7 linked regions of the Homo sapiens genome follow. The protein of the gene in region 1 interacts with the protein of each later gene in a biochemical or structural test. Each region holds a gene or a part of one and is shown on either strand. Other genes may lie near its edges.

Region 1 (3,500 bases):
GGAAATGTGCTTCTTTGTATCTATCTCATATTTTATTGCAGGAAGATCATTATCCCATAGCCCAAGTTAAAAAAAAAAAATAAGAAAAAGAGAGGTTGAATAGAAGAAGAAAAGAAAGAGAGAAATAATATTTATTGAACGACAGATATACGCATTTACTATGCATTTTATCTGTATACTTTCATCTTTATTTCAACCTAGTGATATATTTATTTTCACCATCGTACAAATAATCAAAGTAAGGGTGAGAGGATATTGAATAATTGGCCCACTTACGCTTAGTCGGCTGCACCCCATACTTACTAATGTGAAACCAATATGATCTCAGGAACAATCCTAGCTATAACGATGTAAAATTGTTAGATACTATTACTTATCTCTCACAAAAGTATTTGAATTATCTGTAGATATGACATGTCAGAAACTTTGAAGAATAGAGTTTTAGGTAAATGCAAATTAAACCACCATGAAATACCACAACCATACCGCATAAGAATGGTTACAGTGAAAAGAATTGACAATTCCAAGTGTTGATAAGCATGTGGGGCAACTGGAATGCTCTTACGTTTCTAATAGGAGTATAAATTTGCACAACTTCCGTGTGTTTTGGCAATATCTACTCTATTTAAACACATATTCTCCCTCTGACTTAGCAACTGCACTTAGCAGTATAATATAATATATATTATTATATTATCTATTATAGTATTATAAATAACTATTAGTTAAAAGAAAACAACACAAATGTCCATTGCACTCCAGGGTATAACCATGAAAAATGAGCATAGTGGCCCACCAATGTACATGTGGAATGTTGTTTTCTGCTTTTAACTATTATAAATAATTTTATAATAGCATTATTATTATATATTATAGTATACATAATATACTATATATAATACCAGATGTTACTATATTATTATAGTATTACCATATATCATATATTATACTATATTATCTGTACTATATGTAATATACTATAAATTTTAATATAGCATATAATACTATCTTATAGTGTAATATGCTATAATATATTATAAATAATATAATATATATTATATTAATACATATTAAAATACATATTTTTATTTGTATTTTTTCTTTCTTTAACTATAATTATTTAAAATACTATTATAAATAATTATATGATTTATAATATAAATAATAATTATAAAAATTATTAATATAAAAAGTATTTTATATATTATATATGATAGTTATATATCATGTTGTATATATTATTTTATATAATTTATTATAATATATATAATATATAATTAATACATATTATATACATATTAATATATGTTAGATATTTTAAATATATGTTTTATAATGTAATTATTTATACTATCATAAATTTATAATATTACCTATAAATATACATATAAATACATAATGATTTATAATGCTATTATAAATAATTGTATGTATAATTATTTTCATAGTATATGAAATTATATATTTATAATATATATTATTATATTATCTATTATAGTATTATAAATAACTATTAGTTGAAAGCAGAAAACAACACAAATGTCCATGAACTATAAAATGAATAAACTGTGGTTTATTTATGTAATAAGATATGACATAGCATGAAAAAGAATGTACCACTGCTATGCACAATATAAAATAATCTCATAGATTTCACTTCAGTTGAAAAAAGCTAGACACAAAAGAGTATATAATATACTATTTAATTTATATGAAGTTCAAAAACAGGCAAGGCTGGTCTATGATAATATAGTTTAGTATAGTTATTAGCTTTGGGGAAAAGTTTTGACTGATAGGAGAGTTAAGCTTTCTGGGGAACTAAAATATTCTGTATGTTCTGGATGCTGGATGTGACACACACACACACACACACACACACATATATATATATATATATATATATATATATATATATATATACACACACACACACACACATTATATATATCAAAATTATCCATCTGAACTGTTTAAGGTCTGTAGACTTAACTGTTGATAAGTTATATCTCAATGTAGACATAAAAGTGAAATAAAATAAAGTCTCTCTTAAACTTTAAATCCTCATCTATTCATGTTAAAATCAATATAAAGCATTGATTAGCATGCATGGGGTGTTGGAGAAAAAAGCCACAAAATATTTCTTTAGGTCAGCCAATAAGTAATAAAATTAATTTAAATCAATTGATGTTAAAAGTAAAAATGTTCAGTAACGTAACCTTAACATCAAGAATTTTGGAGAAAAATCTTTTAAAACTGTCAATTATATTAGCATGTGCTATATGCCCATTACCCAAGATTATCATAGAAAAATTATATCTCCTAAAATACATTTGGCTGTTTTTTTCTCCTTCCAGGTCTCTTTCAGAGGTAGAAATATAGACTGATTTTTACAATACTAGAGAAAATTATTTTATACCACTGGAGTCTCCTATCATAAAGGAATATGTCCCAAGAAACAAATATGTTATGCCTTGAAACAGTAACATTAAATGACATGTTCATGGATTAAAGAAACGAATCTTGATTTTTAAAATATCTAGTTGCTTCCACAGTGGTGGTCATGTATTTGTAAGTTCTGGTTTCTCTTCTTTCATTTCTTCATACTTTTCTATCTTATTATTGACTGTGTTGCTAGAAACACAACCCTTTGAACTAACTCAGTTGCCAGGAGTCAGAAAAGTTTTTTGACCGCGAAAATACAAGTTTTGTTTTGGAATGAACATCTTTTAACCTATCTCATTGTGCATTTTATATAATCCTAGAAACTGTTCATGTAAAATGGCCACTGTTTTGAGGTTTCGGCTGCACTTAAAAGACAAATATCCAGTATTATTAACAAACTCCTCATAAAATGCATGTTTCATCTCTATGATATCACTTCAAGAACTGCTTGCTCTCTGGGTTACTTACCCACAGATGTGAATAATTCTTGCTACAACATTCTTGTTACTTTTTGAGCTCATCTAAAATGTCATAAATTACCTAAATCTTGGAAGAATCTTCTCGAAGATTCCCGAGTTAATCAGGTACCTCTAAGACAGTCCCTCTGAGAAAGCATGAAAGGCAGATGAGCATACCGATCACAAAGTTGGCCCTGGAGGATGACTGTCCATACTGCTGCTCAATGTACTTTGGTTTGTACGTCACCATGCCGAACAGAGAATTGAACTGAACAGTGCTTGTACATAAATATAGGAAGTATACTGGGTTTCCAAAAAGATTCTTCAGTGATGGAAGAAAATCTGTAAAACAAAAATAACATAGACTAATTAAAGTTGGTGTCACGCATGGAAGAAGAAGTAGCCGTGCTGGCAGGACTTACAGGGCTGGGGCCCATTGTCACACAGTTTGGGAGTAGTCACAGTGTGGTACACACATACACTATGTATATAGTAAGCCACTGGCATGCGTCAAGCCTGCGATCTGGCCAGGTTCGAATCCAGACATAGGCACTCATTTCTACAGACATGCAGTATAGATTATATTAAAGGTAGGAGTCA
Region 2 (3,500 bases), on another chromosome or scaffold:
GCATGGAAATATTAGGTTGTGCCAATACTGCACTGCTGTATGGTATTAACAGAAATGGAAGCGGAGTGTTTATTTCTGACATCGTGAAAGGCGGAGCCGCAGACCTGGATGGGAGATTGATTCAGGGAGATCAGATCTTATCTGTGAATGGGGAGGACATGAGAAATGCCTCACAGGAGACAGTGGCCACCATCCTCAAGGTGAGTTGCTAGGCTGCTTTTTACCCAGCTGGCACAACTGAAGTCCAGTGGGAACTGTTCCAGTCTAGCTTGATTATAAAATGGGTTGGATTTTATACTAACTCTAGTTTTTACTAGAAATTTAATCTCTGATTATTTTAAATGAGCCAGAATAGCTTTAAAAGAAAGTTCTGTTATATTGACTAACAGAATGAAAGGGAACCTGCTTTGGGATTTCACAAGCAAGTTTTTCATACTTGTGAGAATTCTAAGTATCCATCACTGTTCTTTAAATGCATTTGATGAGATGGGCCCTCCAGGAGCCACAGAATTCATCCTCCTCTCTCTAGGGCTATGCCTGTTGCTTTCATTACCCTTTTATAATTTGTGGCTGCAGGGAGAGGCTCTGTTAAGATATTTCAGAATATAAATGCTACTACTTTTCATTTCTGTTCTTTTCTTGCCTTTCCAAGTGTGCACAGGGACTTGTGCAGCTAGAGATTGGAAGACTCCGAGCTGGTTCCTGGACCTCCGCAAGGACGACATCACAGAACAGTCAGGTTGTCGATGGCTTCTCATCAGACTGACTCACTCTTCTGCCCCCACTGGGAGAAAGTTCCCCATTTAATAAATGGTTGTTTGGAAATAATATCTAATGTACAGCATATTCACAGCACCAAGTTTAGTGAACTTTCATGTGTTTGAAATAAAAATGAAAGGTGGGATGGAAATTCATTAATCCCTAGATTTTTCTCTCCTTTATTGCTTGCAAATGTTTTCTTGGAAGCTCTTTTCTCTCTATTAGTTCTATATTGCCTATGCACGCATGTACACAGCTGTGTTTATTTAAAAAAAAAAAAAGGCAACATCTGGTGGCAATTTGACCCTCATTAGCACAACATTGTTCTATTCATTCAATTAAATATTGCTATAAAGTTAACTTGTGACTAGCCACTCACACATGCCGAGGGCAATTAATGGCATATTCCTAGGAGAACCAAGTGTGGGGGTTTTTCCTGTGGGAGGGAGGGCTTAGTGGGTGATATTTTGTGGGTTAGCAAACATCTTATATTTATTTGCAAAGCTGATGTAAGTGCCATTTTTTTTTAGCAAAGTATATTTCACTATATTTTTTTCATTGTAATGGCTGACAAAATCAAGATGGTAGACTGTATGGTTAGCCCCATGTGGTACATAATGAGACTATAGAAACTTATATGTGACCCCTAAGTCTCCTCTCTGGGTTATGGATAGGCCGCCTTAGTTTTGAGGTTAAAAGCATGACTTTTGGTCCCCTCCCTGGTTGCCTTATTTCTGAAGCCTCTCCAAGGCCTTTGTTCAGAAGGTGCTCTGATCTTACAGTTAGCACACAGTTACTTCTGGAAAGCTATTAGCTGCCTCCTGTTCCTCACTGGTGTTAAAAAATGAGTGAGGAAAATACCATTGTTCAGATAGGATTACAGACTAGCTGGCTTGTCTTAGGGAATCTTCAAAGCAGTCAAACCCAATAAACACCATATTAAGTTTGAAACACTTTTTTTTTTTTTCATTTCTGGCTTACATAATGGGCAGCAAATATCTAAGACATGGTGCTGCTGTAGGATTCCATGAGTTAATAGTTAGTGATGATATTGACCAGACTTATATCAACAAACGAAACAGTTGTCTAGCCAGGCTTCTTCCTTAATGGAAGACTCATCTTTGTTGAATGATTTCATTAAAGCCTTATTGTATACAGAAGATTAGAATGAAGCTACACAGAGGAGGTTCCATTGAATCTCACTCCAAATGGAGTTTGGGGAAAAGAAGGAAAAGGCATCTCAGACAGGGAAAATAGCATACACAAAGGCACAAAGAGGTAACAGGTGTTTGTGTGATTTAAGAAAAGTTTGGACTGATCGATAGGTAAGGTAGTGGATAGAAATGGATTTCTGTCCCTCTTGAGAGATGTATGTGAGCATCTTCTTATTTATTTATTTATTTATTTTTGAGACGGAGTCCCACTCTGTTGCCCAGGTTGGAGTGCAATGGCGCGATCTCAGCTCACTGTAATCTTCGCCTCCCGGGTTCAAGTGAGTCTCCTGCCTCAGCCTCTCGAGTAGCTGGGACTACAGGTGCCCGCCACCACATCCGGCTAATTTTTGTATTTTTAGTAGACACGGGGTTTCAAAACATCTTGGTCAGGCTGGTCTCAAACTCCTGATCTCAGGTGATCCACCCACCTCGGCCTCCCAAAGTGCCTGGATGACAGGTGTGAGCCCCCGCGCCCAGCCGCATCTTCATAATTTTTAAGTTCACACTCAAAGACAGAACTACCAAATTTAGAAGCTACATCATTAAATATCAAAAAAAAAAAAAACCTATCGTCTCCACTTACCTGGTATATGAATGTGAGTTGTCATATTTTGGAAACCTGGGACAAAGTATCAAATACTTTGCCCTAATCTTCTTACACAGAATTTTAATTTCAGAGGGTAGGAGTTTAATTCAATTTTTAAAAACAGTAAATATATCTTATCATCACCTTGTGCTTAAAATTATGGGTGAGATAGAAGAGTTTGCCCTATTTGGCTAATTAGAAGAAGGCTGGTAGCCGACTGTGAAAAGGAAATGTCTTCCCATCATGATGAGTTGAAGACTGACCCTGGTGGGCAAAAACAAGATTCCATTGCCAAACATTTTTACATCCAGACCCATTTAAAAAATCAGGATCTTGTAGGAACACAGATTTCCTTCTGAGCAGTTACAAAATAGGGAGATCAATGCCTTCTTTTGAGCGCTAAGGAGAATAAGCTCTTGACTTAATTCATAGAAAGTGAGTTCATTAAGAGAGAAATAACTTCTAGCTTTGGGGCCACCAAGTGTCTTTTTTTAAAATGACTTTCCCCCAAACCAGGAAGAAATTTCCTTACTCCACAGAGGAAAAAATACTTGCGAGATCTTTTCCTCAGCCAACTAAGGGAACACAGTCAGGCAAAGTGTACTTTTATAAACGTCTTGGGGCCGGGCGTGGTGGCTCACATCTGTAATCCCAGCACTGGGAGTTCGAGGCGGGCAGATCACTTGAGGGCAGGAATTCAAGACCAGCCTGGCCAAAGAGCCTGGTGAAACCCTGTCTCTACTAAAAATACAAAAATTAGCTGGGCATAGTGGTGGGCTCCTGTAACCCCAGCTACTCAGGAGGCTGAGGCAACAGAATCACTTGAACCTGGGAGGCGGAGGTTGCAGTGAGCTGAAATTGCACCACTGCACTACAGCCTGGGTGACAGAGGGAGACTCCTCAAAAATTACAATACAATGCAATAAAGGTCTTGGCAAACA
Region 3 (3,500 bases), on another chromosome or scaffold:
GTGGCACAGTCTTGGCTCACTGCAACCTCCTCATCCTAGGTTCAAGTGATTCTCCTGCCTCAGACTCCCACGTAGCTGGAATTACAGGGATGCACCACCATGTCCGGCTAATTTTTGTATTTTTATTAGAAATGGGGTTTCACCATGTGGGACAGTCTGGTCTGGAACTCCCCAACCTCAAGTGATCTGCCCACCTCGGCCTCCCAAATTGCTGGGATTACTGACATGAGCCACTGCGCCCAGCCTCTTATTTTTTTTATAATGGCATTTACAATAATTTGTACTAATATATTTACTTGTGTAGTTATTATCTCTCATTGTTCCCTCCATAGATATTATAACCCCAAAACTACTAAAAAGTATTTATAATTTATCATTAGATTGTACTCTCAAACATATTATGTTTTCATTTTTTTCTCCCTTCAGACAGAGTAGGAAAATCAATAAGCACAGCATTTATCATCCTTTTAGCTTTCTGAGCATCTACTGGCAGCAAGGGTCAGAGCTAAATTCTACAACCCTGGAAGTAAATGCCTTCCATTAGCTCTCTTCCAGCAATTATAAGAATGCAAGCAGGAAACAATGAAAATAGTTATTATTTTTTAAACATTTGCCAAAGCAGAGAATTCCATCTAACATTTTGGGTGTTTAATAATGATACACTTACATCCCTCCTTATGAGAAATGATTACAGATACCAGTGATTAACCCTTTGACAATTTTCAGTACACTGCATAGATATAGCATATATACAGTCATTTAATAACTGAGATATATTTCAGGAAATGCCTCTCAGTTAGATGGTTCCACTGTTGTACAAACACCACAGAATTTGCTTGCACAACCTGAGACAGCATAACGTACTGCACAGCGAGGTTATACAGTACAGCCTATTTCTCCTAGGTTACACACCTGTATAGCATATGACTGTATTGAATACTGTAGGCAAAAGTAACATAATGGTAAGTAGTTGTTTAAACACATCTACACATAGAAAAAGTAAAGTAAAAGTACAGTCTAAAAGATTTAAAAAAAAAATGATACACAGATACAGGGCACTTACCATGAATGGAGTTTGCAGAATGGTAGTTGCTCTGGGTGAGTCAATGAATGAGTGATGAGTAAATGTGAAGGCCTAGGATGTTACTATACAGCACTATAGACTTTATAAATACTGAGCACTTAGACTACACTACATTTATAAGAAGTATTTTTTTCTGCAATAATAAACTAAGCTTAGCTTACTGTAACATTTTTTACTTTACAAAGTTAATTTTTTCAACTTTGGCCTTTTTTGTAGAAGTGCTTAGCTTAAAACACAAACACATTATGTAGCTGTACAAAATTATTCTATATCCTTATTCTCTACATTTTTTTTCTACTTTTAAATTTACAAATTACTTTTTTATTTTTGGCTTTTTAAAATTTTTATAAAAAATAAGACAGAAACACACACATTAACCTTGGCCTGCATATAGTCAGGATGAGTTCCATCATCACATCTTGTCCCACTGGAAGGTCTTCAGGGGCAATAACACGCATGGAGCTGTCATCTCTTATGATAATGATGCCGTCTTCTGGATACCTTCTGAAGGAACTGCTTGAGCCTGTTTTATAGTTAACTATATTTTTAATAAATAGAAGGAGTACACTAAAAAAATAGGAGTACAGTAAATACAGTAATATTTACTGTATTACTATAATACAGTAAATACATAAACCAGTAACATATTCTTTCTTATCATCATTATTATTATGTAGCATACATCATAATCGTATGTGCTAGACTTACACAGCTGTCAGCACAGCAGGTTTGTTTACACCAGCATGACCACAAACACAAGAGTAATGCATTGCTCTATGACATTACAACGGCTATGACATTGCTAGGGGATAGGAATTTTTCAGCTCCCTTATAACCTTATAGGATCACCGTCGCATATGCAGTTCATCATTAACCCAAACATCCTTATGCGGCACATGACTGTATTTAAAATGCTATATCTGACATGTTGCATTGGGTTACTCTGTTTCATAAATTATTTGCTTCACTTTTTTTTCTCATGTTAATGTCTCTTAAATTGGAATATATGTAAATTTGTGAACACTTCAGTTGAAAACTTCTGGTAAGACCAAGAAATTGCCAGCATCAAAGTCGTTTTTTTGATACAATGAAATACAGTTACACAAGTAAGGTAAATAATGCGTTTTTTTTTAAGCAATATTATTGCTGTAGACAAATTAGACTCATTTTCTTTTTCATTTCTCATGGAGAAGAATATTTTGGTTTGCTTATAAAGTTCCTTAAAATTTACAAACATGTTCACAAGCATTATTTAATTTCAACATCATAACAGTTATGTAAGGAAGGGAAGAGATAGTGTGTCACCCCTTTGTAGAGTAATAAACCAAGTCTTGTATGTTAAATGCTTTGGTGGTTATATTGTTAGTAAGAGATGAAGCCAGAAACCCTAACTTCTATTTTATGGACATGCTTCAGTGTAAAGACAGAGAAGTCATGTGTTGGGGCTTTGAAGCCCGGAGTTCTGGTATAATGTCTAATGAAGACTTGGTGAATTCGCAGAGTGTTGTCTTTTTACCTGTGGCTTCTGCACCTTGGTCCAGTCAGGAATGGCCAGGTTAGCAATGTGAAGTGATGTGTGCCAGCCTGTGTAACTCCAGGTTTTCACCAGGACAGTGACCTGCTGGACCGACGGAAACAGTGCTTCACCGTGCAGTCTGAGTCTGGGGAGGACCTGTACTTCTCAGTGGAGCTGGAAAGTGACCTCGCCCAGTGGGAAAGAGCCTTCCAGACAGCAACCTTTCTAGAAGTAGAACGGATACAGGTGAGAGTCTGTGGGACTGCAGGATGTGTGGCTCCCTCAGATGCATGACCACTTCCCTAGAGTTCTAATATCATTCCAAAGTAGTGTAAAAATACAGTTCTGGGAATCTTGACCTCATATACATTCTATAATTAGCCATTTTTGTTTAGTGACTAGTAATACAGCTCTGAATAAAATTTTAATTTTTCCACGACTTGATCTTTCCAGGCTATTTCCTACTACTAATTAAAAATATATTTCTAATTTTAATTAGACATTACTCTGACTTAAATCTAATATAGAAAATACTCTGATTTAATGAATTGTTGACAAGGTCACTTCCTGTTCTCCAAATATGACCTCCTAATTTCCAGCCTGTTGGCGTCATTTACTCACAATGCTCTTTCCCTTTGCCTCCATCCTTCAAAGCCACACAGAGTTTTTGAGACTTTTTATCAAAGGTCATATCATCCAGGAACATGTCCCTGATTTCCAGTCCACCCTGCCTAATGCTTGCCAATACTCCTTCTACAACTATCCTGTTCAAACAACTCTTCTTCTCACTTTTGAACACAATATAATGTACTTTTCTGGTTTTTTTACAGATAAGAAAACACAAACTAATCAATTGTATTCATACTACTCATGAAAAGCAATTACATTTTTACATGAAGT
Region 4 (3,500 bases), on another chromosome or scaffold:
GGCTGGTCTCATTTTTACCAACACTTGGACACCTCTAGTACTTGGCTTTACAAGCCCTAGACTTTATCATCCAAGTTAACACAACAGACCCTGTTGTCCTGGCCTCAGGACAGCCATCATCCTGCTTGGCTAAAAATAAAGGCAGCACTCATATAGTGTAGAATTAGTATTCCTACCGTGAGCAGGGGCACGCTTTGTGCTGTGGCTACCCCAAAGTCAATTCCCTGGCTGGGACCTGCCAGCTCAGGCAGTGGGAGTTGTACTGGGAGGAGGGTGGGAGAGATGGTAAGTTTGGATCTCAGTGTACTCAGTAGGGGGAAGGGGGTGGGGAACTGGGCTGCCTTACATGGGAGGCCTCCGGGCATCCCCAGGCAGCTGGTGGGAGGAGAGAGGGTGTCAGGGAGCTTTGCACTGCGGGGGGGCCTTCTCACTACTGTCACTCCTAGGGAGATCTCAGGATACCTAGGCGGAAGAAAATAAACACCAACTCTTTTGTCCCTTTCACCAAAGGCCAGCATGTTTCCGATGCCTGTCTAAGGTGAACCTGGCTTGTCCTGTTTACACGTCCTGGGATGTTACTGTAATTCCAGTATTCCAGAAGACTCTGTTTCTGGAGACTGGAGAGGCAAGTGTATTTTGGGGTAGCCATAATATCTTGGGTTGGTGGGTACAAGTTTGAACACCTAGTAATGCCCCTTACCCCTGAGGAATTCCAGGGACTGAGCCACCACAAATGTCTTCAGGAACCTGACCCCTCCACGTCATGAACACTAAGTAGCTCCTGACACTGCTTATGTTTGCTTGCAGGTGATCAAATGGAATCATACACTCTCTCCAAGAGCACGAAGGTTTCTTTTTCTTTTTCTGTTTAATAAAGCAAGATGTCAATAAACTCTACATTTTTGTGTGTTGGCCAATGGACACTTATAAAATGTCTGATTTCAGCTGTGTTTTCAGTTGAACACCCCCCACCACCCGCCCAACACCCTCTTTCTGGCACAGTGTGTTTTATGGAGATTTGGGTAAAACTAGATTGTGCTATATGGGTCTCCTGATGAAGAGAATTCACTTCCAAGGCTAAAGCAGCCATGCAAATATTATTACAAAACCACTCAGCATACAAAATTGGCATAGCTTTCCTCCACAGTTTGCCACTGCCCACTCTCCACTCCTACCCCGCCCTGGCCACCTTAATTCCCAGTATCATTAGGCCGAAAGAAGGGACAGCTGTCTCCAGAAAATGTGCTCCGAGTGTCCCCATCAGCGTGGATTCCCAAGAGAGAGCAGGCAGTGAGATGGCACAAGGAGAGGAAGGTACTGGAAAGAATTGCATTAACTCCTCTCTGGACTTACTGCTCATCTTTAAAAACCTAAGCAGATGTCAGGCTTATTGATTTCTTTATTGGTGGCAGCTGTGGAGCTGCAGTCCACTATTTTTGGCACCTGGGAGATGCACACGGCCCCTGAGCACACTTCCCGCCTTCTGATCCCTCACCTGCTCAGCTTCCCAGGCTCCGTCTTTATCTTGAGGATCTCTGAAGACTGCCTCTTCCCCTGTACTCTTCAGGATCCAGTACAATGCCTAGTACATGGGTAAAAATTAAAATTATTTGAATGTTCACTATTTGGCAGGCACTGTTCTAGACACTTGCCACATACAGCTCATTCAGTTCTCATAATCTGATGAGGTACATACTGTTATTACCCCATATTCATTTCCTGGGGCTGCCGTCAGAAATTAGCACAAACTTGTTGTCTTAAAACAACTGAAATTTATCCTCTCACAGTATCCTCTTCACAGGTCCGAAGTCTGAAATCAAGGTGTTGACAGGGCCGTGCTCCTTCTGGAAGCTCTAGGGGAGAATCCTTCCCTGCCTCTTGCAGCTTCTGGGAGCTGTGGACATTCCTTGCACTGCTTCAGCCCAGTCTATGCCTTTGTCTTCACGTTGCTTTGTCTGTGTGTCTGTGTCTTCTCTCTTGTCTGCATGTCTCTACTTTGTGTGTCTCATTTATAAGGACATTTGTCATTGGAGTTAGGGCTACCCAAATAATTCAGGATGATTCCAACTTGAGATTTTTAATTTAATTACATCTGCAGAGACACTTTTGCCAAATGAGGACACATTTGCAGGTTTTGGGATGTGGGTATATCTTTTGGGGAGCTACTATTCAACACAGTACAACCCCTTTTGTGATGGAAAAATGGTGATACATTGTGGTTACGGAATTCTCTGAGGTTGCACAGCCAGGAGTTGGTAGAATTGGAATTTACACACAGCAGCCTGGCTCTAGAGCTTGCATATGGACCACTACTCTCTTTTGCCTTTTAGTAAATGTGCTCCGTGATTGTTCACGGTATGAATGGAGGGCAGCATGGCTGGGGAAATAGATGGATGAAAAGATGCTGGTAACAGTAGTTGGCCAACATTCTCCTTCTCAATGTACTGAAAATAGTAACAACAACTGATATTCATTGTTTTATGCTCTTGACCTGGGACTCGTCCTTGGATCCTCTTTTTTGGCTATTCTAGGGAGAGCTCAACTATCTCGAGGCATTGCCTACCATTTATGCACTTCTGCCTTCCAAATTTATGTCCATAGCCTTGATTTCTCTGCTGTGTTCCAGACTCATGTGCCCCACTGCCCCCTTACCATTCCAGTGGGGGCGTTATAGGGATCTCTAACCTAACACAACAAAATGCAATCCTTGATATGTCTCTTTCAAGCTAGTTCTTTCCTTCTCCTCCTCCCGTCTCAGTAAATGGCACCACCATCCACCCAAAGGCTCATTCCCAAAACTAGAAACCACTCTTCATTCTCTTTTCCCGACACTCTGTATCCAAATCCAGGAATAAGTCCTGTTGGCCCCACCTCCAGCCTCCACCTTGTTCTCCCGCCTCCACAGCAGCCGCCCTTGTTAAAATCACTGCCATCTCACCCCTGGACCCATGCTGCAGTCATCTTCTAACCGGGCCACCTGAGGACACCCTTGACCCCAGTCCTTTTCCTCCGAGCAGCCAGAGGGGTCTTTTATTTTTTTAAGACTTTTTTTTTTTTAATATAGCAATTTTAGGTTCACAGCCAAATTGAGAAGAAATTACAGAGATTTCCTGTATACCTCTTGCCCCTACACATGCAGAGCCTCCACTCTCATCAACATCCTTCACCACATAGTTCATTTGTTACAGTCGATGAACCTGTGTTGGAACATCGTTATCCCTCGAGTCCATAGTTTACCTTAGGGGTTCACTCTTACATTCTATGGGTTTGGATAAATGTATAATGTCATGGGTTTGGATAATGTGTAATGTCATGTATCCACCATTATATTATATGAGTAGTTTCACTGGCCTAAAAATCTTCTGTGCTCTGACTCCTATTCATCCCTCCTGCCCCCCAACCCAGAGGGGTTTTTTTGTTTGTTTTTTTAAGAGATGGGGTCTCACTGTGTCGTGCAGGCTGGTCTCAAACTCCTGGGCCCAAGCGGTCCACCCGCTTTG
Region 5 (2,921 bases), on another chromosome or scaffold:
TGTTTCATGCAGCATAGTGTCCCCGAGGTCTGTCCGTGTTGTAGCACACTTCAGACTCTCCCTCCTCTCCAGGGCTGAGTACTGTTTCCCTGCAGGCCTAGAGCACATTCTGTTTCTCCGCTAGTCCGTGCTGTCACCCTCGGCTGTTGTGAACACTGCTGCTGTGAACACGGGTGTGCACGGCGCCTGTTTTCCATTCTGTCCAGTCTCGTGGTCACAGGCGCTCCCAGGCCCTCCTGTCCATCTGTTTGGCGTCACTTTTAGGCTGGAATGGAAGCCCCCACCGCTGCACTCCAGCCTGGGTGACAGAATGAGACCCTGTCTCCAACAAAACCAGAACCAGTATATTTGGCACAAAATGCCCTTACGTCACTTGGCGGGGGGGGGATGTAGGAATAAAGTGACTCTTCCCTGTCGATGTAGACCATTTGGGCATCCGGCAAACAGAGCCTTCCCTTGACAGAACAGATGCCCCACCTTTCTGGTGGCCAGGGGACAGGCTGCCTCTCCTTTCCCGCCCGCCCATCAGCTAAGTGCCTGTCTTCCAGGATGGTAACCAGGCTGTGCCGTAGGAGGCCAGGTGGCAGTGGCCTTGGGCTGTGTCACCAGTCTCTAGCCTGACCACAAAGGGAGCGGCCCTGGGGGAGGTGCAGCTGGGGGACAGGTTCCACCGTGGGAGTCAGAAAACTTGGTGGTTCCCCACACACCATGGCATTAACTCTCTTGTTTTAAAGAAACATACTGCATATCATAAGGATCTCTGTCTGTGAGTCAGCGAATTGCACGTGCACGTATTCATCATGTGGCGCTTTTCCCTCTGCATGTCCCATCTTTGGGGACGTGGTGGAGCGCCTGTCGGGTGTGGCGGGAACACGTGTGCTGACCTGGCCATGTCTGCTTAGATCTGCAGCCTCATGAGAGGGGGCATTGCTGAGCGAGGGGGCGTCCGTGTGGGCCACCGCATCATCGAGATCAACGGGCAGAGCGTGGTGGCCACAGCCCACGAGAAGATAGTCCAAGCTCTGTCCAACTCGGTCGGAGAGGTAAGGAGGGACTTTGAGTGTGCCTCTGCATGCCGGTTCCCACGTGCTCCCGCCTGCCCTCCATGAGCCTCCCCCGCTCCAGAGGACACAGGGCATCTGAAGGTCAGCCAGGCTGTGTCTCCCATCGGGGCTGCTGTGACAAGGGTGAATGGAGCGGCAGGTGATGCGGAGCCATCCCGGTCTGGCTCTAACTGAGCAACCGGGAGGGCACAGGCTGCTGGGGGTGCTCCCTGGACACTACTTTTGGGACTGGACCTGTATGTCCAGTTCAGAAGCTCTGCAGGGCACACAGCTCTGGCCACCCTGGCAGGCTTGCCTCTCTGCCCTTGCTGGCCATCCCCTCCCACAGCCAGGCTGCTTGCCCTGTCCCACTTCACTGGCTGAACCCCCCACAGTCCAGTTCTTTCTGGCATCGCTTCCACGGCAGTGTGAGGATGGTGTGGGGGAGGTGCAGGTTTTCCTCCAGAGCTCACAAGGAGGCAGGATCATTGGGAGGGGGGATGGTGCTGGGGAGGTGGCACATACACCGGGGGAGGCCTGGCCAGTGCGCAGCGGGTGTGCGTGTGTGTGTGTGTGTAGTGTGAGCGAGTGTGGGTGTGTGCATGTGGATGTGTGAGAGCATGGGTGTGTGTGGGATGTGATGTATGAGTGTGGGTAAGTGTGGGTAGGTGTGGGAAATGAGTGTGTGCGTGCACGTGGGTGTATAGGGGTGCATGAGTGGATGGGTGTGGGTGTGTGGCTGTGTGAATGTACCTGAGTGTGCGTGTGGAGGAGTGTGTGTGTGTGGGTGAGTGTATGCGGATGTACGTGTGTGTGTGAGAGCATGGGGTGTGTAGGAGTGCGAGTGTGGGTGTGTGCAGGGGTGTGTGGCTGTGGGTGTGTGTGAGCATGGGGTGTCAAGCATGAGTGTGTATGTGTGCACGGCTGTGGCTGTGGGTCTGTGAGTGGGTGTGAGGCATGGGGTGTGAGGAGAGTGTGAGTGGGTGTGTCTGTGTGTGTGTAGGGGTGTGTGAAGGGGTGTTCAGCACAAAGGGGCTGCAGGCTCTCTGGGAAGCGTGGTGGCCGCACGAGGCGGGAGGCTGAGAGCTGAGGAGCCCGGCCTACAGAGGGGCCCGCTGGGGACCGGGCAGGGAATTTGGGTCTGGGGACAGCAGCAGCAGGCCGGGCCGTCTGTGGTGCTCCCCCTGGTGGCTCTGTGAGGCTGAGTGCGTGGCGACCATCCTTGCAGCCTGTGGGTGGGCGGGTGGGTGGAGGGGTCTCTAGTTCCTGTTCTTCGGATGAGGTCTCCAGGAGCCACATCGGGACACTGGTATTTTGTGCACTGCAGGGTCGGCTGGGAGCTGGGAGGCCTGTTTTCCCTGGACTGGTGGGGGCAGGGGTCTGGCTCAGGAGGAGGAGGGGCCAGGCGGACACCAGCCTCCCTTTGATGGCTTCAAAGAAAGGAAAAGCCAGTGTTCCCAAGTAGATGCTTTGAAGCGGCCGCCCCCACGGCCAGCAGCCCCACACCTGTGAGGAAATCCACCCGTGGAGGAGCGGGCGGGAGAACGGGGAAGAGGCAGGAGGCGGCCGGGGCGTTGGAATCCTTTCAGCCCTGCCGAGGTTATGGTGCCTGTTTCCAGCAGCTCTGAGCCCACGCGGAACATGAGTCGCTGATAAACAAGGCTTGCAGTTGCGAGGGGCCTCGGGGTGGGTTTCTGGTTGAGGAACGCCGGGGAATGGCTGATGGAGGAAGCCCCTGCCGGGAGCAGGAGCAGCGGAAACCTACATCGGCCACACAGATCCCGGCGGGGGAGGGAGGGCAACGCTCAGAAGCAGAGCTGCGCGATGTGCCTTTCTGGGCTGCTCAGCCCAGGGCCCGAGACCTGCTTGCCTGAGGAG
Region 6 (3,500 bases), on another chromosome or scaffold:
AGAAGGGGAAGGGAATTGGGGAGGAAAAAAAATCAGAAGGAAGACGAAAGATGGGGCTATAAAAACAAAACTACCTGATAGTTGAAACGCTTTCAGAGTTGTTCAAATCAGTGAGAGTGGCAACGGAACACACAAACAACTAATTATGGAACTCTACTCTGGGGATCCTCTCTGGCTAGATAACCTGTGCTGATGTGCAGACACGTGGACATCCCCCTCTGAGACTGGCGGTCCAGAGGCAGTCTCTGCCAGGCAGCATTACCCGCTCCGAGGTGGAGCCTCAGCCCCCTTCTTAGAGCTGTTAAGTCTAAGGTGTGGCAGAGCAGACAGAGATAGAGGCATCTGAAGTGAGTATAGGTTTTTTGACTAAGAAAAAAAACAACAGCAAACATGACTAGTGATCTTGAAATATTTTGTACCGAGAGAAAGACTGCATTTATTTGTAGAATTTATCAGGTTTCTGATACCACTCATTGGATGTAAACATTTCATGTTTCCTCACTTTTGATATGAAAGTCGGTAAAATGCAGTATTAGTCCCGGGAGGATGTGCACAGCTGGTCAGAGCTTCCAGAAGGAATATCTTCCGAGGACTAAGGTGATCAGGTTAAGAGGGTTCAACATCCCACGGCCCTCACCTTCCTCCCTCCCACATTCCAGGCATGGAGATATCTGGTTTCAGAGTCAGCCCCAAATCTCCTGCCTATAATTACTTTAACTGGGGTCTCTAAGGTTCCCACTTGAGGGCTAAAATGTAGTTGGGAAAGAGGGCCTACTGGGGAGGTCTCACAGGAGGCAGTGCCCTGGGAAATGCCAAGTCCAGACTCAGTGCCAAGCAGTAACCATCTGCACTCGGGGACAGCGAGGAGCTGACCATGGCCTCTGATGACCAGCAGGTATTAGATGGAAGTGAATGAGAGAGAGAGAGAGAGAGAGTATGTGTGTGTGTGTGTATGTGTGTGTTCGAACACATATGATTGCCAGTATGGAGAATGAAAGATTAATAATGCTTTCTGGAGAGTTTGATGCAAAAGTGGGGGAAACGGAGAAAAGGCGCTAAGGCTAAATCCATCTGCATTTGCTATATTTCATTAGCTAAAGTCAGGTCAGGGCAGGGCCAAGGCCTCCAATTGGCAAAGGACAGTGTTATGGCTTTAAAAAGCTGAAACCCCAACCTCTAAGTAGATCACAATGTTTTCTGAGCTTTGCAGTAATTTTCTATGGAAACTAAAACCTCTAAAACATACAAGCTGGCCCAAATGAGAACACAAGCAAAAGATGTGGAAGACAGCAAAACCTGAGCACTGGTTTGAACCAGGCACTGACATTTGAAATGCTTTAAGCCTTTTCACATTCCTTCTTTATTCCCTCCAAAAAAAAAAGTCTTGAGTTTAATTTAGGTCTATTTTGGCTGAGATTAGCATACCTCTGACTCACAGGATTTAATAAATTATAGTATTATTGAATACATAGGACATCCCTCTACCCCAGCTTACTCTTATCTTTTTAATTTAAAATAGTATTCTGCTACCAAGAAGGATGCAACTGCTAGTTTTAGATGTAAATAGTGTTATTTACTGGACTTTGTGATATTATTTTCTTAACTACACTTTACTATGGCCCTGTTGAAAACAGACTATCAAGTTTTTTGTCTCTGTTCTGTCATCTCTCTTAAGCCAGGCACCTTTAGAGTGTTTGCAATTTGTTCGAAGTGGTTGAGGATCTCAGGCCCTGCTCACGTGAGGTGGAGTGCAGGGGAGCTACCGGTTTCCCTGCTGACCTGCTGAATGCTACCTTCCCCTCGAGTTGAATACACCTTAAGGAAAATGATAACACGAGGGACGTGTAACTTGTTTTGAAGCATTAAAAACCAGCAGCTCTTCACTATGTTCCATATTTTAACCAAACTACTGTAGACTACTAAACATAGCCAAGCCAGAACATTCCTTCTGGATTAAGCCTAGGCCACTTGAGGGGCAGCCAGGGGTGATGGTGTCAGGTGAGAATCCTGTGTCTTGAAGGAGTGGCCTTTACAGGAAGAGTGCCCATGTTTTCACCTGCAGCGTTGCCACCAGAGTGTGCAATACCTCCTGCACACAGGCTCAGGGTAAACTGCTCCAAAGCTGGGTTTTGTGTTGCATACAAAGTCAATAAAATAGTTGCTAATCCTGAATGGCAGCCAGTGATGTGAAGGTACTATTAAAGTGAACAAAAACTAGATTGCAACAGTTTTCTTTCCTTGCTTGAAGTATAACACACGCTCCATTTGATCCTGCCTGAAAGAAGCTAACATTATATTTGTGACAGACAGAGGCTCCATCAAGCCAAGCAACAATTAACAGCTCAAGTGTAAGATTTATAAATGCCCGTGTACTCACCCTTCAATTGTTACCACCCAGAGGTTACAGGACTCTTTCCCAGCATTTAGGGGAACAGGCTTTTAGAGTATTTAGAAGACCAGGCTATAATCAGTAATGTGCCTGGGAGCAGGAAATAGCTCCCAATTTATTTATGGCCTTGGGAAAACTCAATCCGGTGTCTCCTTGTAGCTCAGAACACTAATAGCCCCCCTGGAAGAGAGTGGCACATTGAGCTCCAAACCCAATCAACATACATCCACTTGGCTGCAGATCTGACTGCTGGGTCATGAAGGCCGTGAAATGATGTTTGCCCTCAAGTCACTAGATATTTTAAGAAGCCCTATTTTTCTCCCTTTTTGCAGGAGTAGAGAGATGAAAGAGGACAGACCATTGAAAACTTTTAGATGCAGGAGAATTGAGACTTCCACAAGGGAGAGAAACACAGCCTCCCCAGAATCCATTATGCCATCGGGTTGTGGCACTCTCACCCTTGCCATAATACCGTTTCCTAACAATATCAAATCAGTGGATGAAATACAAGCTCAGAAACAGGAACATTTTCCTAAATCATAACCTAATAGCAAACAAAAATTGAAAAAACAATTATTCTGAAGCTCATTATTCTTAGATCTGTAGATATATATGTGTTGACTCCCACAGGATGGCACCAAGTAAAGATCTTAAGAGCATAGTAGGGGTTCTGAGACCGACTGTCACCCGTGGATCCTGATGGGGAAGAACAGAGGCTTCACTGTAGCTATAGTTTTCCACCAAGTCAATCAAATTAAAACATGACTCATTGTCCCCTCCAAAGATTCATAAAATTCTTGAGCTAAAGTGATCTTCTGAAGAAAAGCCACCTAACAATGTTAGGAGGCTCATAAAGCTCATTTCTCTTTTCCCTGGTATGCACAAATATCAAGCCTATAAAAAAGTAATTATTTCCCCAAACCTGTAACCACTGCATTCGTTTTCTTTGGAGGAACATTGTAGCATTTCAGGAGGGTCGAGAGATCTAAAGAGTTTGGTCTGAATGTGTGTCTGTACAATTCCCTTTGGCATTAAACTCTGAAACCTACAATCAATGGCCTTCAAATTGGTGTTAAATTGGGAGAACACCCTACTGCTTTCTGAGTCTACG
Region 7 (3,500 bases), on another chromosome or scaffold:
ACATCTACACATAAAATTATAAATTGAACACGAGCATTAGTTATTTAATCAACTATTGCTAAGCAACACTAGAGCCACAGAAACACTTAACTGAGTTTAAGTAGGTCAGAAATGTAGAAATTCAGAAAAGTTAAGAATAAATGCCATGCCAGAAGCCATCTGTGTCAGTGACAATGTTAGTTCATATACTGTGGACTGGGGAAAAAATATTAGATGAAATATTTACATTTGCAATACATTTTTTGTTATTGTCTTAACTATATAGTAAACTATTTTTTAAATTTAGATAATCAACAATTATTAATAGCAAAGTTCAGAAAATGCTGAACAGAGGTACGTGTATTTTTAGTATGTGTGCACAATCTCAAAGAGACAGACACATAAACATATAAAATTAATACATTTTTGTTAGAAACAGTGGGGAGTGAAGGAGAGGATAGAAACACACATTATCATCCCAATTGTCCTGGCTGAGTTTAAATTTGGAACTCTATTCCCAGTACCAGAGAAAAACACCTAGAATATAAAGAGATAATCAGTAATTCAGAGAATCTTGTTTCATCATTTTTAAGGAAAATAATTAAGTTCATAAAGAAAATAATGAAAAACTCATGTTCAATTACCTTTTCTAACTTTTTGGCTTCAATATGTCGAAGTACTTGTTCTCTCCAGTCACGAGGAACTTTACTTTTTCCTGGAGGATCTAATAAAGAATGCTCAGAACCAACCCTTGCATTTGGTCTTTTTGAAGGACTAGTCCGTGAATAATTGAAATCACTAACTGACATAGTTCTCTCTGGTATTTCATTAATAGAGGGTCGAGCACTCTGAGGTCTTGATGCATTTGGACCATCTATGCTGTATGTTCGTGCAGAAAGGGGTCTCTGTGATCCTGGCATCATTGGAGGAGTTCTTCCCGCTGAGTGGAACTCTCTGTATGATAAATAATCTCCTTCAGGAATCTGAGCCCGCCTTGTAGAGCCTGGATCACCAAGATTTACAGAGGCTGTGGAGGACACACTACTTTGTCGCTGGATTGTACTTCGAGTTACTGCAGGAATAAGTCGGTCGTTTGGTGAGATGGCCCACATTTCCCCATGTCTTGCTGGGCCAAGTCTCTGATGTAAATGGTATGCAGTATTAGCTCGAACATTGTTATGATTAGAGAAATTCATATTGGCAGAATGTTTAGCATAACTTTGATTTTCTGTGCTCTCTGATCTAGGAAGGAGCTGAGGAGGAAAACTGGCATGGTCTATTTGGGGATTTTGTTTGGAGTGCCACAAAGTGTCTTTGACTGCAGCACTGCTACTGTATTGGATATTATACTGTGGAGGACCATATATTTGAGGTGCAGATTGTGGGCCACTTGTGGGGCCTCTTATTATATTTGGCTCTTCGGGATTATGATTTGAATCAAACTTGAAAATTGCCTTTGTTCCTGATATTAAATCAGAAGATGAGGAAGAACCAGTAAATACCTGCAATGGTTGATCATACAACAGTGTGGCAGACTTGCTCCTGACTATATTTTTTCCATCAACAGCAGATGTGATTTTAACGGTTGTACTTGGCTGCTGAGGTCCATTATCACTAAGAATATCATAGATTTTTAGCCCTCCAATCTCCATATTAGTTATGCTATGAGATTTCACAACAGATCCAACTGGACCACTTTTCTGAGGGGAGAGATCTTCAGTGCTTTTGGAAATACCTAAGTCAACAGAACAATCACTGTCATGTGGTTCAGTCCTATTAGGAGACTGGGAAGTTTCCTCAGAATGTCCATTTACCTTATTTACGGATTCCAAATTAGGATACTTGTTTCCATTTTCCAAGTGCTCAGTTTCCTCTTTAGAATTAATGCTTAAAAAGCTTGTTCCAAGCACAATATCCTGTGTTTTTGATCTTTCCATGATCTCTGGTTGAAATGTATCATTAGTTATAAGTTTATTAAGATTCATATTGATATGATCTAATTTGTGAGTGTCATCAGCTGTGGCTGTTGAGTCAACACTTTTCTCAATTAGAACTAATCGCTCTTCAACATTCAAATCATATTCAGGTAAGTTAAAATCTTTTTTATCATGAGCTTTGAACTTTTCCTCTGTTGAACTGTTTAAAATATCTCCATTTTGTAAAAGGCTGTTAAAATTTTCATCTTCTTGCCTAAAATAAAGATAATTTTATGAAAAACATAATAAAGCCGAGTTTTCTTAGTAACAGGGAACATTAATAAATAAATTGTGTAGGTAGACAAGTTAAAAAAGTTAATAAAAGTCAAAGACAAAAGGCATTTATTATCAAGCATGTAATTTTAAAATATTATCTTAATAGTTAAAAGAGCTTTATATTCAGTTGGAGACAAGTAATACAATTAAAATTCATAGATAATACCAAGATTAATTTTCATCAATACACTCAATCTGATTTGTCACAAAATAATTTAAAGGGCTGAACTATGAATAAAATTTTAATGTTTGCTGCATCTTTTCATGAATGTGCTAAAAAAACAAAATGCTTGAGGGAGGGCAGATATATGGAGAGAAACCTAGTAACATGAATAGTGGAGTAAAGAGCAAAGGACATTTTTACAGTTAATTTTGAAGCCTTACATTATTAACCAAATTAACCATAGTTAACGAAGTACACAGTTGTTATTACATTCAAATATATAGGTAAGAAAATTGTACAAAGCAAAGAACTGAATAATTGTCCAAAGTTTAACATCAAATATGTAAAAGGCATAGAAAGATAAATGAAGTCTAATCACTCTTCTAAGTAGCTAGCTGTATTTGGTAAATACTTTTAAATGTGTCATTCCAAAATTATACAAAATATTTTATTTCTACCTGTGATATTAAGTATTTGTGTCCTCTTGTATACATATTCAAGTTATGTTTCCACAAAAATTCCCTAATACTGGTCTTCCCATTACAAAAAAGATAACTTTCATTACTAGAAATACAGCACAAAAAGGTGTTGCTGTATTCCTTGCTTAGGCTTTATTTCATTATATTAAAAGCAGGATTTAGAAAATATCATACCGCTTTCCCAACAATAAATAAAATTTTATTATTCAACAAATTAATACGATAATATCTAGGAGGTTATAAAAATTAGTATTTTAAACAGCAGCTCATAGCTTCAAATTCAAAGAATAGAAATAAATGATTGATTGTGATTATAATTACACAGTACCTAAACTCATTTTCAGGCATAAAATTCACCTCCCTTTTCCAACAACACGCATTAATATATACAAATTTTACTTAAATATGCCTGAAATTTAAGAACAACTCTAAATGACTATTAAAAATATCCACACATTAAACTTTTGGTTTAGTAGTAACCCCGATCTTTTTTTTTTTTTTTTTGAGACCGGGTCTCAATTCTGTTACCCATGCTGGAGTGCAGTAGCCTGATCATGACTCACTGAGGCCTAAACCTCGCAAGCTCAAGTTAACCTCCCACCTTGGCCTCTCGAGTAGCTGGGACTA

Evidence for each region.
Region 2: the proteins of SLCO1C1 (region 1) and PATJ interact in a test that uses a peptide from one of them, tested with the Homo sapiens proteins (one large-scale study listed by IntAct).
Region 3: the proteins of SLCO1C1 (region 1) and SNTG1 interact in a test that uses a peptide from one of them, tested with the Homo sapiens proteins (one large-scale study listed by IntAct).
Region 4: the proteins of SLCO1C1 (region 1) and PDZD2 interact in a test that uses a peptide from one of them, tested with the Homo sapiens proteins (one large-scale study listed by IntAct).
Region 5: the proteins of SLCO1C1 (region 1) and APBA2 interact in a test that uses a peptide from one of them, tested with the Homo sapiens proteins (one large-scale study listed by IntAct).
Region 6: the proteins of SLCO1C1 (region 1) and PARD3B interact in a test that uses a peptide from one of them, tested with the Homo sapiens proteins (one large-scale study listed by IntAct).
Region 7: the proteins of SLCO1C1 (region 1) and ERBIN interact in a test that uses a peptide from one of them, tested with the Homo sapiens proteins (one large-scale study listed by IntAct).

What each region holds. Positions count from the first base shown.
Region 1 is NC_000012.12:20,722,832-20,726,331, reverse strand, and holds part of SLCO1C1 (solute carrier organic anion transporter family member 1C1), read right to left. Parts: intron 3,243-3,500; coding exon 3,078-3,242; intron 1-3,077. UniProt on the Homo sapiens protein: Mediates the Na(+)-independent high affinity transport of organic anions such as the thyroid hormones L-thyroxine (T4), L-thyroxine sulfate (T4S), and 3,3',5'-triiodo-L-thyronine (reverse T3, rT3) at the plasma membrane.
Region 2 is NC_000001.11:62,116,480-62,119,979, forward strand, and holds part of PATJ (inaD-like protein), read left to right. Parts: intron 1-52; coding exon 53-200; intron 201-652; coding exon 653-739; intron 740-3,500.
Region 3 is NC_000008.11:50,701,907-50,705,406, forward strand, and holds part of SNTG1 (gamma-1-syntrophin), read left to right. Parts: intron 1-2,667; exon of another isoform or gene 2,668-2,693; coding exon 2,694-2,846; intron 2,847-3,500. UniProt on the Homo sapiens protein: Adapter protein that binds to and probably organizes the subcellular localization of a variety of proteins. May link various receptors to the actin cytoskeleton and the dystrophin glycoprotein complex.
Region 4 is NC_000005.10:31,645,631-31,649,130, forward strand, and holds part of PDZD2 (PDZ domain-containing protein 2), read left to right. Parts: intron 1-3,500.
Region 5 is NC_000015.10:29,112,974-29,115,894, forward strand, and holds part of APBA2 (amyloid-beta A4 precursor protein-binding family A member 2), read left to right. Parts: intron 1-902; coding exon 903-1,043; intron 1,044-2,921. UniProt on the Homo sapiens protein: Putative function in synaptic vesicle exocytosis by binding to STXBP1, an essential component of the synaptic vesicle exocytotic machinery. May modulate processing of the amyloid-beta precursor protein (APP) and hence formation of APP-beta.
Region 6 is NC_000002.12:205,615,975-205,619,474, forward strand, and holds part of PARD3B (partitioning defective 3 homolog B), read left to right. Parts: 3' UTR 1-3,500. UniProt on the Homo sapiens protein: Putative adapter protein involved in asymmetrical cell division and cell polarization processes. May play a role in the formation of epithelial tight junctions.
Region 7 is NC_000005.10:66,052,075-66,055,574, reverse strand, and holds part of ERBIN (erbin), read right to left. Parts: intron 2,170-3,500; coding exon 624-2,169; intron 517-623; coding exon of another isoform or gene 409-516; exon of another isoform or gene 1-408. UniProt on the Homo sapiens protein: Acts as an adapter for the receptor ERBB2, in epithelia. By binding the unphosphorylated 'Tyr-1248' of receptor ERBB2, it may contribute to stabilize this unphosphorylated state.